2 linked regions of the Homo sapiens genome follow. The protein of the gene in region 1 interacts with the protein of each later gene in a pairwise test. Each region holds a gene or a part of one and is shown in the gene's direction. Other genes may lie near its edges.

Region 1 (7,879 bases):
GAGATGTTAAGTCTTTATCTGTTACATATGTTGAAAAAATCTTTTTTTAGTCTGTGGTTTGTCTTTCAACCTTGCTTATAGTGCCACTCAGAAGAGTTATTTTTTATGCAGTAAAACTTACTGTTTTCCCTTTTTGATTTGGGTTTCCAGATCATATTTAGATCTTGCCAACTAGGTAAAATTAAAAAAAAAAAACTACTACGTCTTAGTATATTAATAAAGCTATAAGATATTCACACCTATTTTTAATAGAAATTTTATGATTGGATTTAATTTTTGATTAATGTAGAATTTATTTTGGTATATGAAATGAGAGGTAAGGATCTAGTTTTTTTTTTTAACAAATGGCTCTAAAGTCATTTCAACACTTTTTCTTGAATAATTCTTTGCCCCACTGATTTCAATAATTTCTATGTATATTTGGGTCTGTTTCTGGACTCTATTCTGTTCATTTATCTGTCTGCACTATTACCACACAATTTTATTTGCAATAGTTTTAATATCTGGAAGAACAAGCTCCTCTTCCTCCCTCCATTAATGATTTTGTTTTTAGAATTTTCCTGACTGTAATTGCATGTTTATTCTGGAAGTCTTTCTCTTCTTTTAACAGGGCGTAATGCTACTTTATTAACTAATTTGTGTTCTTGGTTGCTAACTGTCTTTTAATCCACTCTATTGATGAGAGTTTTAATAGGCTCTCATTAGAGTCCAAGCTGTTCAACCATCTTATGTACCATGTATTTCACCATTTCTGTAACATTTTGTTAAAGGGTAGGACAGAAAACTTATAGCTTATGTTAGGAGGGTAAAGGAAGATAATCCACAGCATGTTGAGTGCTACTTAATGGCATTTTACTGCTCACTCTTGCTTATCCACCTCAATATGTACCTGCTTCTTTTATCTGCTCTCCTTTTCTCTCTCTTTTACTTTTTTCTTCTGTTTCTTTTAATTTTCATTTACTTGTAACATCTAGGAAGGCCATCTGGATAAAAACAAACAAAAAAAAATTTGAAGATATCCATGTATTATCAGGGTTTTCACCCTTTCCGTACATTTTCCTTTATTCACTGGCCCTTTCAGTGCACTGGCGTCAGCTCAGTAGCCCTAACTTTGGAGTCATATTTACAACTGGTATTCATCAATAGAATCATGTGATTCCTATATGCCTTATATAATGCTGAATAGTATAATATCCATTCTACCGCAGACGTTATTAATCATTAAGAACTCTAAGATGCATGTGAAAGGGCTGCTTGTAGTCTTGAGAGCTGAGTTCTAATTATCACCTTACTTGTTCATCTGTTCATCCATGAACAAAGAAGCTATGGTGGAACCAGGGGTTTAGGTGGGATAATGGAAGTAGGAAGTTTGTCAACCAGGAAATGGGAAATGATAATGGGAACTAACATTTGTTAAGTGACTACTACTATATGCCAGCCACCCATTGTTCTAGATGCTTTATGTGCATTATTCTATTGAACCAGAAGCCTAGAATTACTTTTATTCCCATTGTACATATGAGGAAATTGAGGTGCTAAGATTGTTTTAATATATACGTATTTTTTTAAATAGAGGCTGGGCACGGTGGCTCACACCTGTAATCCCAGCACTTTGGGAGGCTGAGGCGGATGGATCACCTGAGGTCAGGAGTTCGAAACCAGCCTGACTAACATGGTGAAACCCCATCTCTACTAAAAATACCATAATTGTCTGGGCTTTGTGGCGGGTGCCTGTAATCCCAGCTACTTAGGAGGCTGAGGCAGGATAATCTCTTGAACCCAGGAGGCAGAGGTTGCAGTGAGCTGAGATCGCACCATTGCACTCCAGCCTGGGTGACAGAGCGAGACTCCATTTCAAAAAATAAATAAATAAATAAAATTAGAGATGTGGTCTCATTGTTTTGCCCAGGCTGGTCTCAAACTCCTGGGCTGAAGTGATCCTCCCACCCTGGCCTCCCAAAGTGCTGGGATTACAGGTGTGAGCCACTGCACTAAGCCTCTTTTTAAATTTTAATTATTATTATTATCTTTTTTTGTATGGAGACAAGGTCTCACTATGTTGCCCAGGCTGGTCTTGAACTCCTGGGCTCAAGGATTCCTTCTGCCTCAGCTTCCCAAAGTGTTGGGATTACAGGTGTGAATCACCATGCCCAATTTAGATGCTAAGATTCTTAAAGCTGGCTCAAGGCCACACAGTATATGGTGCATGGAGAGTCAGTCAACTGTGGCATACTCCACTGCTCCTTTTCACCAGAATTCTTTCCCTAATATGGCAATCGAGGGTTATGAAATAAAGACATACCAAACTGCAGGATGCAAAAGAAGAGGAATTAATAGCAGTACTTTCTGTTTTCCCATTTTTCTTCATTGTACTATGCAATCTAGATACAATTTTGAAGAGGGAAAATAAATTACTTTTAGTAACCTCATCTTGTCCACGAGATCTAATGACTGATTCTGAGACTTTCAGGATCAGGAAGGAACTCTGTTAATGTTCCCAGAAACTGGAGCCACAATCTCTCTTCTTTATCCTGTTAGCCAGCTCCATATCTGGCCTGAGGTGCACAAGGCTTAAAAGAGGGGTATATAGGAAGAAGTGGGAGGCTTATTAATGTTTTGATTCTGTGTTTGTCTACAAATCTGGAGGCATCATGTTTTCACACTGTTATCTCTGAGTGGAGATTAGCATCATGCTTAGATTTAGCTGGAATCAAATTTTTACTTACATATTCCACCCCTCAAGCCATTTGGTTTGGAGATGGGTGGGACATGCGAGCTTGCTGTGAGACTGCAGGGGAGTCTCCTAGTTTCCTAATGATTGGACAAAGGCAGGGCAACAGAAACGTCTTGGAACTAAAAGGCTTTTTTTATTTTTATTTTTTATTTTTATTTATTTTATTTTCATTTTTTTTGAGACGGAGTTTCGCTCTTGTTGCCCAGGCTGAAGTGCAATGGTGCCATCTTGGCTCACCGCAACCTCCGCCTCCCAGGTTCAAGAGATTCTCCTGCCTCAGCCTCCCGAGTAGCTGGTTACAGACATGTGTCACCACGCCTGGCTAATTTTGTAATTTTTTAGTAGAGACGGAGTTTCTTCATGTTGGGCAGGCCGGTCTCCAACTCCCGACCTCAGGTGATCCGCCTGCGTCAGCCTCCCAAAGTGCTGGGATTACAGGCGTGAGCCACCGCGCTGGGCCTGTTTATTTATTTATTTTTTGAGACGGAGTTTCGCTCTTGTTGCCCAGGCTGGAGTGCAATGGCGCGATCTCGGCTCACCGCAACCTCTGCCTCCCGGGTTCAAGCGATTCTCCTGCCTCAGCCTCCCGAGTAGCTGGTTACAGGCATGCGCCAGCACATCCAGCCAATTTTGTATTTTTTTTTTTAGTAGAGACGGGGTTTTGCCATGTCGGTCAGGCCGGTCTCCAACTCCCGACCTCAGGTGATCTACCCGCCTCGGCCTCCGAAAGTGTTGGGATTACAGGCGTGAGCCACCGTGCTCGGCCTATTTATTTATTTATTTTTTGAGACGGAGTTTTGCTCTTGTTGCCCAGGCTGGAGTGCAATGTCTCGGCTCACCACAACCTCTGCCTCCCGGGTTCAAGCGATTCTCCCTCCTGCCTCAACCTCCCAAGTAGCTGGCATTATAGGCATGCACCACCACGCCCAGCTAATTTTGTGTTTTTAGTAGAGACGGGGTTTCTCCATGTTTGTCAGGCTGGTCTGGAGCACCCGATCTCAGGTGATCCGCCTGCCTTGGCCTCCCAAAGTGTTGGGATTACAGGCGTGAGCCACTGCCCCCGACTTATTTTTTATTTTTAAGAGACATGATCTCGCTGTCTCCCAGGCTGGAGTGCAGTGGTGGGATCATGGCTTATTGGACCTAAACTCTCAGGCTCAAATGATCCTTCCACCTCAGCCTCCCAAGTAGCTGGAACTACAGGCGTGTGCCACCACACCTGGATTTTTTTTTTTTTTTTTTGGTTCAGGTGCAGTCTGGCTTGTTGATCAGGCTGGCCTCGACTAGTCTCCTCAGCTTCTAATATTTCTGCTATTTCTGACCTTTGCCACTCTTGCATAACCAGTGATCAACAATGTCTACTTGCTTTATTTCTTTTTCTGTTCTTTTTTTTGTGTGTGTGAAGTCCTGCTCTCCTTTTGGTAATCCTGGCCATCTGCACTTTTCCCTCAATTCATTGTCTTATGCTTTCAGAATTACATCATATTTGCTTACTCTCAGTTATTCTCACCCTGAACTCACCAAGTGACTGACTCTCTGAACTGCATCCCCAGGATCTAAGGTCTAGACTGGGTCGCAAGGCTTAGGCTCCGTGACACAGCGTAAAGGCCAAGTGGGAGTGGCTTTAGTGGCCTAGCGTGACACCGCTAGCGTCGCTAGGGGGCGGAGTTTTCTGAACGTCCTCGTGCGCTGTGGACGGAGGTTGTGGAGAGAGCAGGGCGGCATTGGTGGCTGCGGCTGAGGTGAGTGGTTTAGTGGGCAGGAAGGGGTAGAATAGGCTTCAAGCACAAGTTAGTTGGGTAGTTTATAACTAGCAAGAATATATTATAGCCATTAGGCCAAAACTTTTTAGAGCGGCCCTAAGGCAGTGACTTTGTACTACAGAACTGCTCGTCGCTCTCAAGGCGAACGAAGATGGGCAAATGTAATGTTTTTGGACGAGGATTGAGGAGTATGGGGAGCGGTGGTGGGCCACTGAAAACCGGAGATAGTAGTTACTGTAGTTTAGATGCTAAAGGACCTAAATTACGTTGAAGCGGGACTGTTGATGACCGTTGGGGGCAATGTAATGTTTTTTGATGAGGATGGAGGAGTATGGGGAGTTGTGGTGGGCCACTGAAAACCGGAGATAGTAGTTATTGTTGTTTAGATGCTGAAGGACCTAAATTACGTTGAAGCAGGACTGTTCATGACCGTTGGGGGCAGGATACTGAAGGTGCTAGCGTTCTCACAGAGCGGGAAAAAGGACCGTGAGTGATTGGATGCTTTGAATGTGCGGTTGGTAGCGGAAGCGGATTTTGAGCCAATTAGGAAGAAGCAGCGAGACCCAGCCAGACCAATAACAGGGTACCACTCAGCTCCATTTCCCCCGTTGCCAGGCAGACTTATGGTAAGAAAAGGTCCCTTTTATGTAACTTGGCAGCCTGGCCCTGCCCCTCACAAAAGCCCTTTCATGGGCTTTTAACTTTACTCAGCCTTTTTTTCTCCCTTTGGATAACAAGTAACGGGAAACATTTCACTGGAAAGAAATTTGTTGAGAAACTAGAGGATAAAACAGAGTATTAAAATATGTTATTATTTCACAGGCTTGAGCCAGAGATTTAAAAATGGACAATGATGATTTTTTTTCCATGGACTTTAAAGGTACGTAGCTCTACGTGGTAGTACAAAATAGTGTCAAACTGCTGCTTTAAGATCTAAATATTGCTGGGCGCGGTGGCTCACGCCTGTAATCTCAGCACTTTGGGAGGCCGAGGCGGGCGGATCACGAGGTCAGGGGCTCGAGACCAGCCTGACCAACATGGTGAAACCGCGTCTCTACTAAACATACAAAAATTAGTTGGGCGTGGTAATCCCAGCTACTCAGGAGGCTGAGGCAAGAGAATCGCTTGAACCTGGGAGGCAGAGTTTGCAGTGAGCAGAGACTGCGCCACTGCGCTCCAGCCTGGGCGACAGAGTGAGACTCCGTCTCAAAAAAAAAAAAAAAAATCTAAATATTTTGTTTCTGAGTTTTGTCTTTCTGCAGTGTCCATAGCACCAGGTTTTCTCATTTATGTACCAGAAACAATGTCTATTTTTAACACATTGGGAACCTTTTTATGAACTAGTGTAGGGAGACAGAATTCACAATTCATAACTTGTTTTTTTTTCAGGATTTTTATGGCATGCAAAATAAAACGTTTAATCTGGAAGATAAATCTATTGCAATAAAAATAAGTTTAAAAAATTACTGCAAGATCTTGGAGTTCCTTTCCATAATCATCCGTGAAAAATAAATTATATCCTGTGTAGTTTTAGACTTAAGTACATTTTATTGTGTCTTAATTCTTTTGAAAATTGGTAATCCATGTTTGCTATTTATGGGAACTCTCAATAAACAAAAGCAATTTGACTGACCAGAACACCAGATTCCTCAACTGTGCTAGATATAGGAGAGTTTGTGGTACTATCTTTGTTTTTGGGGAATAATGAGACCTGTGGTACCTTCACATTCATATAATAATGAAATATGTGGTAAGAAATGTGGCTACAAATCTATGATTTTAAAAAGTTTAGGTCAACATTTTGTTAATACTTTTTTTTGTTTGCTTGTTTTGTTTGTTTGTTTGTTGAGACAGTTTTGCTCTTGTTGCCCAGGCTGGAGTGCAGTGGTGCCATCTTGGCTCACTGCAACCTCTGCCTCCTGAGTTCAAGCGATTCTTCTGCCTCAGCCTCCCAAGTAGCTGGGACTACAGGCCCGCGCCACCATGCCTGGCTAATTTTTTGCATTTAGTAGAGACAGGGTTTCACCATGTCGGTCAAGCTGGTCTCGAACTCCTGACTTCAGTTGATACACCTGCCTCGGCCTCCCAAAGTGCTGGGATTACAGGTGTGAGCCACCATGCCAGGCCAATATTTGTTATTTTAAAACAATAACAATAAAGCCTGCTACTATCTACTTTAAGTTTTAAATTAGGATAAAATATCTTAAAGGTATAAAGATGGAATAGGGATTATGACTCTTAAGTTGATAATATTTGAGACTTTGTATTTACATAAATATTTGAATCACACAGAAAAGTATAGAAAATAATATAATGAACATCTGTGTACCTACCACTGAGTTTTGTCAAATCTTAAGCTTGCCATATGCTTCAGATATTTCAAAGAACTAAAAGATTACATGTACCATTTTTCTTTTTAAATTTTATATAAATAGTTATTTTATATTTCTTTTTCCTGCAGCTTGTCTTCTTTTTTCCTTTTTTTGCTCAGCATTGTGATATATATATATATATATATATATATATATATATATATATATATTTTTTTTTTTTTTTTTTTTTTTTTTTTTTTTTTTTTTGAGACAGAGTTTTGCTCTTGTTGCCCAAGCTGGAGTGCAATGGTGTGACCTCGGCTCACTGCAACCTCTGCCTTCCAGGTTCAAGCGATTCTCCTGCCTCAGCCTCTCGAGTAGCTGGGATTACAGGCACGTGCCACCATGCCCGGCTAATTTTTTGTATTTTTAGTAGAAACGGGGTTTCACCATGTTGGCCAGGCTGGTCTCAAACTCCTGACCTCAGGTGATCTGCCTGCCTCAGCCTCCCAAAGTCTTAGGATTACAGGCGTGAGTCACTGTGCCAGGCTGTGTTTTTAATATTTACCCATATGAATACTTTTAGTTCATTTATTTCCACTGCTGATGAGTAGTATTTCATTGAACCTAAATGTACCACAATTTATTCATTCAGTCTCCTTTGTTGGACATAAAAATGGTTTCAAATATTTGCTGTTAAAAACAACAATGCTACAACGAACACTGTGTTTCTGAGAGTTTAACAGAAACTTTCAAAAACATCTTTGACTACCACTCATGGCAAGAAAATGTTTTGATTACATCCCAGTACATACATACTGTGTCAAAAGTTTAATAAAACAAAATTTTATCCTCATTACATGCAGTACACTATGATATTTTCTATTCTATTTTTCTCATTAAAAAAATGCTGGGTATTCAGCAAAGGTCTGACTGAAAAGAAATGCTGGGTATGACTCACTACCTCAATACATTGACTGATTTTTTTTTTCTTTTGAGACAGAGTCTCACTCTGTCGTCCAGGCTGGAGTGTAGTGGCACGATCTCGGCTCACTGCAACTTCCACGCCT
Region 2 (7,231 bases), on another chromosome or scaffold:
CATAGCTTTCACCAAACTAGGCTCATAAGCAGCCATCAGGAATGGTGTGACCCTTGAGGAAAAGGGCTGTAATACGGTACAATTTTTGGATTCTGTTTAGTTTCATGAAATGGAGGATCACAGACAGAAATCCAATGGCAATGCCTGAAGGCAATGGAGGTTATTTTCTGAATTATTTGAATAATTGAGGTAAAAGTGGAGTTTCTGCCTGGATTATTCAGATAATTGTCTTAATTCTAAACTTCACTTAGCTAGCTGGTAGAGACCTTTGTATAGGATGTATTTTTGGAATGCTAAATGCTAAAAAAAAAGAACTCCTAAAGTAAGCAGAGCTGTGGTGTAATGAGGGTGTATTGGGGGTGATACAGAGATACGGAGGGAGAGAGAGAGAGAAAGGAGGAAAAGAGAAGAAGAGAGAGAATGGTAAATAGCTAATCGTCAGAATAAGATTAAACTTTACTTTCTACTTGATAGTAACCAATGTCCACATTTTCATCACAGAATGAACTTTCTATAAAAAGGGAAATACATATGTAGATTTCAAATATAAACCATAGTATTTTAAAAAGTTACGAATTCCTTTTTAAGCTTTAAAGAGGTAAATTTTTACTTTGTAAGGTTTAGAAACTTCATGCCTTCAAATCCAGCAATTTATATAGTGAAGCAAATTGACTTAAAAATTATACCATACTTTTTGTTTTACTTCATATTGTTGGTCTTTGCCGTTTAATTCTTTTTTCTTTTTTGAGTTTCTGAATACCCCAGAGAAGGTAATCTATTTATTATGAATTCTAGGGCTAGAATATCAGCACAAATATGGAAGTATTTTTAGAAGCTATTGTCACCATAGAAATGTTAGCCACCATTTTTGTCTAGTTTCTTTTTCTTTTAAATTTTATTATTATCCCTAAAACTTAATTCTTAAAGACAAAATAAATTAAAAAAAAGAAGAATGATGACATCCATTCTCTTCTTCATTGGTAACAGAACCCTGGGCAGTAAGCCCAGCCCCCAAATTATTTGCCAACCTCCCCCACAGATGAGTGTGTCATGTGACTAAGTTCTTGCCCATAAGCGGAAGTGTTGTGTGAGACTTCTGGATAGGTCCCTTTTTTTCTGGACTCCTTCTGACCTACAATGCCGACAAGGTGCCTCGATCTCCAGCAGCCATCTTGGGTCATAGGGCAACCTTAAGAATGGAAGCCTCACACTAGGATGGCGAAAGATTAAGGTAGCAGGAACCTGACTTCACGATGACTGTGAAGCTACTATATATCCTCTGGGATGCTCCTTCTGCATTTATTTTACTTAAGAGAGTAAAAATGTATATCTTGCTTAAGACACTATTATTTCTAGTTATTGTTATTAGCAGATGAACACAATTCCTAAGTGATACATATATTAAGGTATTAATTGAAAATATTTTGTGATTTCTAGGATTAGATTTCTAGATACGTGTAATAGCTTTTCCCCTATCCCGCCAGGTACACACACATAAACATGCATTCTAATTTGTAAGAAAGAAAACTAAGTGATTATGTGAAGTTGTACCAGTAATATATTTTGTGCAATTGCAAAGGATAATGCTTTTGCAATGTGAATCATGGGAAAATAAGAATTTGAGCATCACTTAAGAATTTTTCAATGTACCTACATGCACTAAAAAACAAACAAACAAAAAACAAAAAACCAAGGCCGGGCGCTCTGGCTCACGCCTGTAATCCCAGCAATTTGGGAGGCCAAGGCAGGCAGATCACAGGGTCAGGAGATGGAGACCATCCTGGCTAACACGGTGAAACCTGTTTCTACTAAAAATACAAAAAATTAGCCGGGCCTGCTGGCGGGCGCCTGTAGTCCCAGCTACTCAGGAGGCTGAGGCAGGAGAACGGTATGAACGCGGGAGGTGGAGCTTGCAGTGAGCAGAGATGGCGCCACTGCACTCCAGCCTGGGTGACAGAGCGAGACTCCATCTCAAAAAAGACAAAACAAAACAAAACAAACCAAAACAGTAGAGAGGAAGACAAGCAAATACAGAAATGGAATTCAGCAACAGAATATTAATAGTTTTTTCTTTATCTTTTGCAATTAATAGCAAGAAAGGAAGGAAAGATCAATCTATTGAGCAGTCAGATGGAATGGTAAAGATTAATCATTCTCTTCCCTTCAGAAGTTGCCTTAATTCTTTGTCTTTTAAGATCCAGCTCTTTTATAAGGCCCTCACCAATCTCTCAGTAGGAATTAACCTCTGCTCTTTATCAGGACTAGAACCAAGCTACAGCGGGTGAGGCATTTGTCTTGGGTACAAAAGTTAAAACTCAGTAATCAAGATAAATATTTTAATGGAATATTTTAATTGGCAAACTAAGGCATGTGGGCCAGTCTCCTGTTTTTGTAAATAATTTTTTAATTATACTTTGCTTTTATTTGTATTATAGCACTTAAATAGTACTTTTTACATTAGCCCTCTCCCAACAGGGCTGTACTCATTTTTGTATTCCTCATGTACCTACTACTCTGTTTGAAGCATAAAGGCCTCTTAAAAAAATCTTGCATTGAGTTGATTAAAGGATTTTTGCAAGAATATATTGTACTGGTGATGGTGGGGTTCAATTTTCATACTGAATTCAACAATAGCAAAAGAATAACAGAATGATGACTATTTTGAAAGTACTTATAATTTAGTGCTGTGGGAAAAATCACTTGGCTTGTCTTTGACTAAAACCCTGCTGAGCTTAGGGAGATAGAGAATTGTAATATTACATTATGTTCATATAGCACTTTTTCCTACATAAAGTGCTTTCTTTTAATCCTCACCTCAATCCTGTAAGGTCGGTATTGCTATCCCTATTTATTGTAGAGAGATTGAGAAATGAGGTGACTTGCCCAGGGAGTTATGGGCAAAAAGAGGCAGAGCTGGGGTTCTAACCCAGATTTTGTCTGTCACAATTGAATGCCCTTTCTGCGATTATAAATCTTATGTCTCAGAGTTGAATGAGAAACAATTTATACAGCAACTACAATAGCATTCTTATCATTAAAATGTTCTGATTATGTGTGTGTGTGTTTGTGTATGTGTGTGTGTGTATGTGTGTGTGTGATGAAGTAGCTGAACTTGGTATTTTTCGGTAGAGGGTAGGAAACTACACATTGAAAAGCCGAAGATGAAATTATGTTATTTGAGTATTACTTTCTAACTATAACTTTACCACTGATGTGTGTATGATATTCTGCAAAGTGACTAAACTGTACGTGTTTGCTTCTTCATGGAAAAAAAATTTGGGAAGGCATTTAAACTTTTCAGCTGAAAAAGGTTATGTCAATGTGAAAGATTATAGTACTCGAGAATTAGGAGTTGATTAAATTTAACGGTTTCCTTTTCATACTTAGGGGGAAAAATCTACGACTGTATTTTAAAACTCCATATGGCAATTAAATTTGAGAGCGTATAACTAACTACTTCACTAGAATTTCCATCAGTATACAATAAACACACAGTCAAAACCTCAAATGTCCATTATTAGCCCATCTAGTAGACGATATTTTATAATTATGGATTCCCCATATTGATTGATGTCCAGAGAAAAACTGCAGTCTTCTCTTACTAAGCTGATAGTTGAGTTCCTGGGAAATCCTCACCCCCTAAGAACAAATAATTCTCAAAGAAATTCAAAGTCATTCCTTTTGGTGAATTGCAATCAGTCATCAATAACTATTTATGGAATGTCCGAAGGGTGCCTAGGCATTGAAATGGCAAGAGACTTATATTTGCTTAATTCAAAGGATTTCTAAAGGCAGTCTGAGGACTTGCAAGAAGTCTTTAAAGATGCAAAGTGGTGTGTTCTTTAACTGCCCCTACCTGGAATGAATTGAACAGTCTGGGTGTTAGGGCTTTGATGTCTAATCCCGCTTTGCAAGCGAAGACTCCACTGGTGCCAAGCGACAGGCGGGCTGGTGGGCAGACATGGCACCACCACCGGGGGCTTTCAGGACTGGTCCAGCCCTCCCAGGCAGGTGTAGGGCCGACTGCAGCAACAGCGGCCCTGACCCCAGCTCCCATGGCTCCCCTCCCCCCGCACTCCCACCCCCCGCACCCGGCACACACCATCTCCCAGTCACCCAGTCTCGACCGGTTCTCGCGAGATCCGGGTTACTGAGCGCTCGGGGCCTTTTCAAATCGGGATCCGTTACCGCTTCCCCGGCAGCCGCCATTGTCGCGCTCGGAGCCCCTCAGCTCAGGCGGCCGAGGCGGAGGCAGCGGCGGCGGGATGGCGGACGCCAACAAGGCCGAGGTGCCCGGGGCCACTGGTGGCGACAGCCCGCACCTGCAGCCCGCAGAGCCGCCGGGCGAGCCGCGGCGAGAGCCGCACCCCGCGGAGGCGGAGAAGCAGCAGCCGCAGCACAGCAGCAGCTCCAATGGCGTTAAAATGTATTGTCTTTTCCTCCGGGAACCGGGGCGAGGTGGGGGGCGGGGAGTCTACCGGGCGGCTAGAGGCCGGGCTGTGCCCCGATGGGGGACAACCACCCCCAGACCCCGGCCCGCCCCCGGGCCATCGGCTTCCTGAGGAGCAGGTGCAGCTGGGCCGCTCCCAGGCCCTTCCCCGCCCGCCCCAGGCCTGGCCGCCTGTGGTCTGGGAGCCGGGGCTGGGGGCCCGGGGACCAGCGCTCTTCCCTGATTTCTAGCCCGAGACAGCGAACACCCCTCTTCCCTGACTTTGGTTAAAGAATCTTTGAGCAAAGCTCAGCGACCGCCACGGTTTGCAGGAAAATGGTCCCCCTTTAAGGACCAGTAGTTAGTGTTCATCACTAGGGAGTATCTAGGGATGACATCATCGGACATTTCCTCTTAACCACCGAGAACATATTTAAAAGGAATATTCCTGGCTTCTTTCTGAGCTTCACAAGTTTAGTGTTTTGTTGTTTTCTAAAGTGTATGTTCATTTTTAAACTGATTTATACCGAGAGGAAGTTTAATAATGTGCTGTTAGACTCTATGTTTTGTGTTACTCTTGAATTGGCTAGACGTACTTTAAAAAGGGAAATGTGCGATGTGCGTGGCTTCCCTTCCCACTGGGTAATGTGCGTCAGCTGTGGAGAGTATTTTTTTTTTTAACTCAGTGTATGATTATCTTAAGTTTGGTATAATAGATGGTTAAGATTTTTTTTTTCCCAAATGAAGGAAGACTTTTAAGGTCGCAGCTGTCACCAGTGCCTATAAAGAATTTAGTTGACCCCAATCCATAATAATTTCTGGTTCTAGGGAAATGTTATGCTCTCCTTTGTTCCTGTCCTGTGGGAGGATATGAAGTTAAGCGCTTACTTTCATATGCCTACCTCCTTAAACCTGAAGTTGAAAGTATGTTAATAATTAAGTGAAAACATCCTTTTCCTTCTCTGTTATGCCTCAGAGCAGAAAGCAATAGATATATGCTCACAGTAAAATAGACAAGGGAAAGGTCTTTCTGACCTTTGTATAAGCATGTTTGAAATTGTATGGTAAGAACTGGACCAGTCTGTGTAAAAGTTGGTGGCAAAAAAGATGGGGTAGCTCTCCCCAGCTCTTTGACACTCTTGCTCTCAAATGAGTTTGAACAGGATCGGCAGCATCTTCTAGGAGAATAGAGGTGCAGGTATAAGAGATTGGAACTTAGTGGAGTTTATTCCTGGATGAAGAGTGGTGCACCTCAGTAATTGAGGAACCAGAAAGGGAATGAAGTGCTTTCTACCATGCTTGCCAAAATGTGGGCTTTCTGGAATTTGGCATTAAAAATAGAAATGAAAACCGGTGGAATGATAAACTTAAAAATATGTGCTATTCATATCTAAACACGAGTATACATGCCACCTTTTCTCCTGAACAAAAAGTGCAGCCTTGAATTACAGAGAGAAGCCCTCCTATACTTGGGTATGATTAGTTTTGATATAGGGGAAGTTTGGTATCTAAACCTCCATCAGATTTTCTATTCCCTTCTAAAGTCTCTTCATGATTTAGCAAGACAGGAAAAGAGAAAGGAGAAAGGTGGAGAAAGAATCCTTTTCTAATTTAGGAAGAGAAAAATATAAGGTGAAGAAATGAAGAAATATTACTAGTAAATACAGATTATTTCCATATTGCTTATAATTCGCCTCTCCCTTTCTCTTTTTCCCAGAAGTTGAATCGAGTCCAATTTACTCTCAGGGATTTCTCTTACTGTCTATTCCATAAGAAGATTTGTGATGGTCCAGCATGAGTCATTCAAACTGAATAACTAGCGACCTAGTCCTTTTTTTTTTTTTTTTTTTTTTTACTTCGTGAACTAGTAGGAGTGGATAACAACCCCAATACATAAACCTTGAGTTGATTACCATATACTTTTAATAATAAAAATAATTCATTGTTGATTATAAAAATTACCATAATATTGCCCCAAATTATGTATTGGTTGGAATTGAACAGAGTACTGCTTGTCATCAGGATTGAAATAATATTTGCTGAGGTTAATCCATAGTTATTGAGGGTGGGAGACCACTATGTCTTATTCTTCTTTGTATTCTTAAGGCCTAGTAAATATTTGTGGAAGAAATGCAGAAGTGAACTTTCATGCTTATGAAACTCATATACAGGGAATTTAGTTTGCATATTCACACCTTTAGAAAAGATCCGTTTTCCAACTGTAGTCTTCTTCTTTAACGCCAAATGGTATACTAGCTCTCCTTTTCTTAAAAATGAATAGGAGGGAAAAGAGCAGTATTATTATAACTTTATTATTCATGTGTAATTAAGTATAACTTTGGAGTAGGTAGAGATTGAGAGTTATATTAGGGTACTATAAAATATTAAGCATTGGAGCAAGGTAATGTGTTCTTTAGCTGAGTGATTTTTATTAGGAATAAAGACTAGAACTGTTTCCCCCAGCTTTATTGAGGTAAATTGACAAAAATTGTATATTTTGAAGTGTACAGTGTGATGGTTTGGTATACAAATAAATTGTGAAATGATTACCACAATCACGCTAATTAACGTATCTGTTACCTCGCATAGCTACCATATTTTTTGGTGTTGAAAATACTTAAGATCTATTCTTTAAGCAAATTTCAAGTATACAGTAAATATGTTAAGTATAGTCACTATACTGTACCTTAGATCTACAGAACTTACTCATCTTATAACTGAAAGTTTGTGCCCTTAGAACATTTCCCCATCCCCTGCTGCCCTCCACCTCTGGTAAACACCCTTCTACTCTCTGCTTCTGAG

The links. Proteins that work in one complex are often made in the same cells at the same time.
Region 2: the proteins of TEX11 (region 1) and MYEF2 interact in binary tests that used the Homo sapiens proteins (3 or more experiments, as listed by UniProt).

Annotation. Positions count from the first base shown.
Region 1 is NC_000023.11:70,905,251-70,913,129, reverse strand, and holds the start of TEX11 (testis-expressed protein 11), read left to right. Parts: upstream 1-4,418; 5' UTR 4,419-4,476; intron 4,477-5,319; 5' UTR 5,320-5,340; coding exon 5,341-5,377; intron 5,378-7,879. UniProt on the Homo sapiens protein: Regulator of crossing-over during meiosis. Involved in initiation and/or maintenance of chromosome synapsis and formation of crossovers.
Region 2 is NC_000015.10:48,175,272-48,182,502, reverse strand, and holds the start of MYEF2 (myelin expression factor 2), read left to right. Parts: upstream 1-4,207; 5' UTR 4,208-4,265; coding exon 4,266-4,426; intron 4,427-7,231. UniProt on the Homo sapiens protein: Transcriptional repressor of the myelin basic protein gene (MBP). Binds to the proximal MB1 element 5'-TTGTCC-3' of the MBP promoter. Its binding to MB1 and function are inhibited by PURA.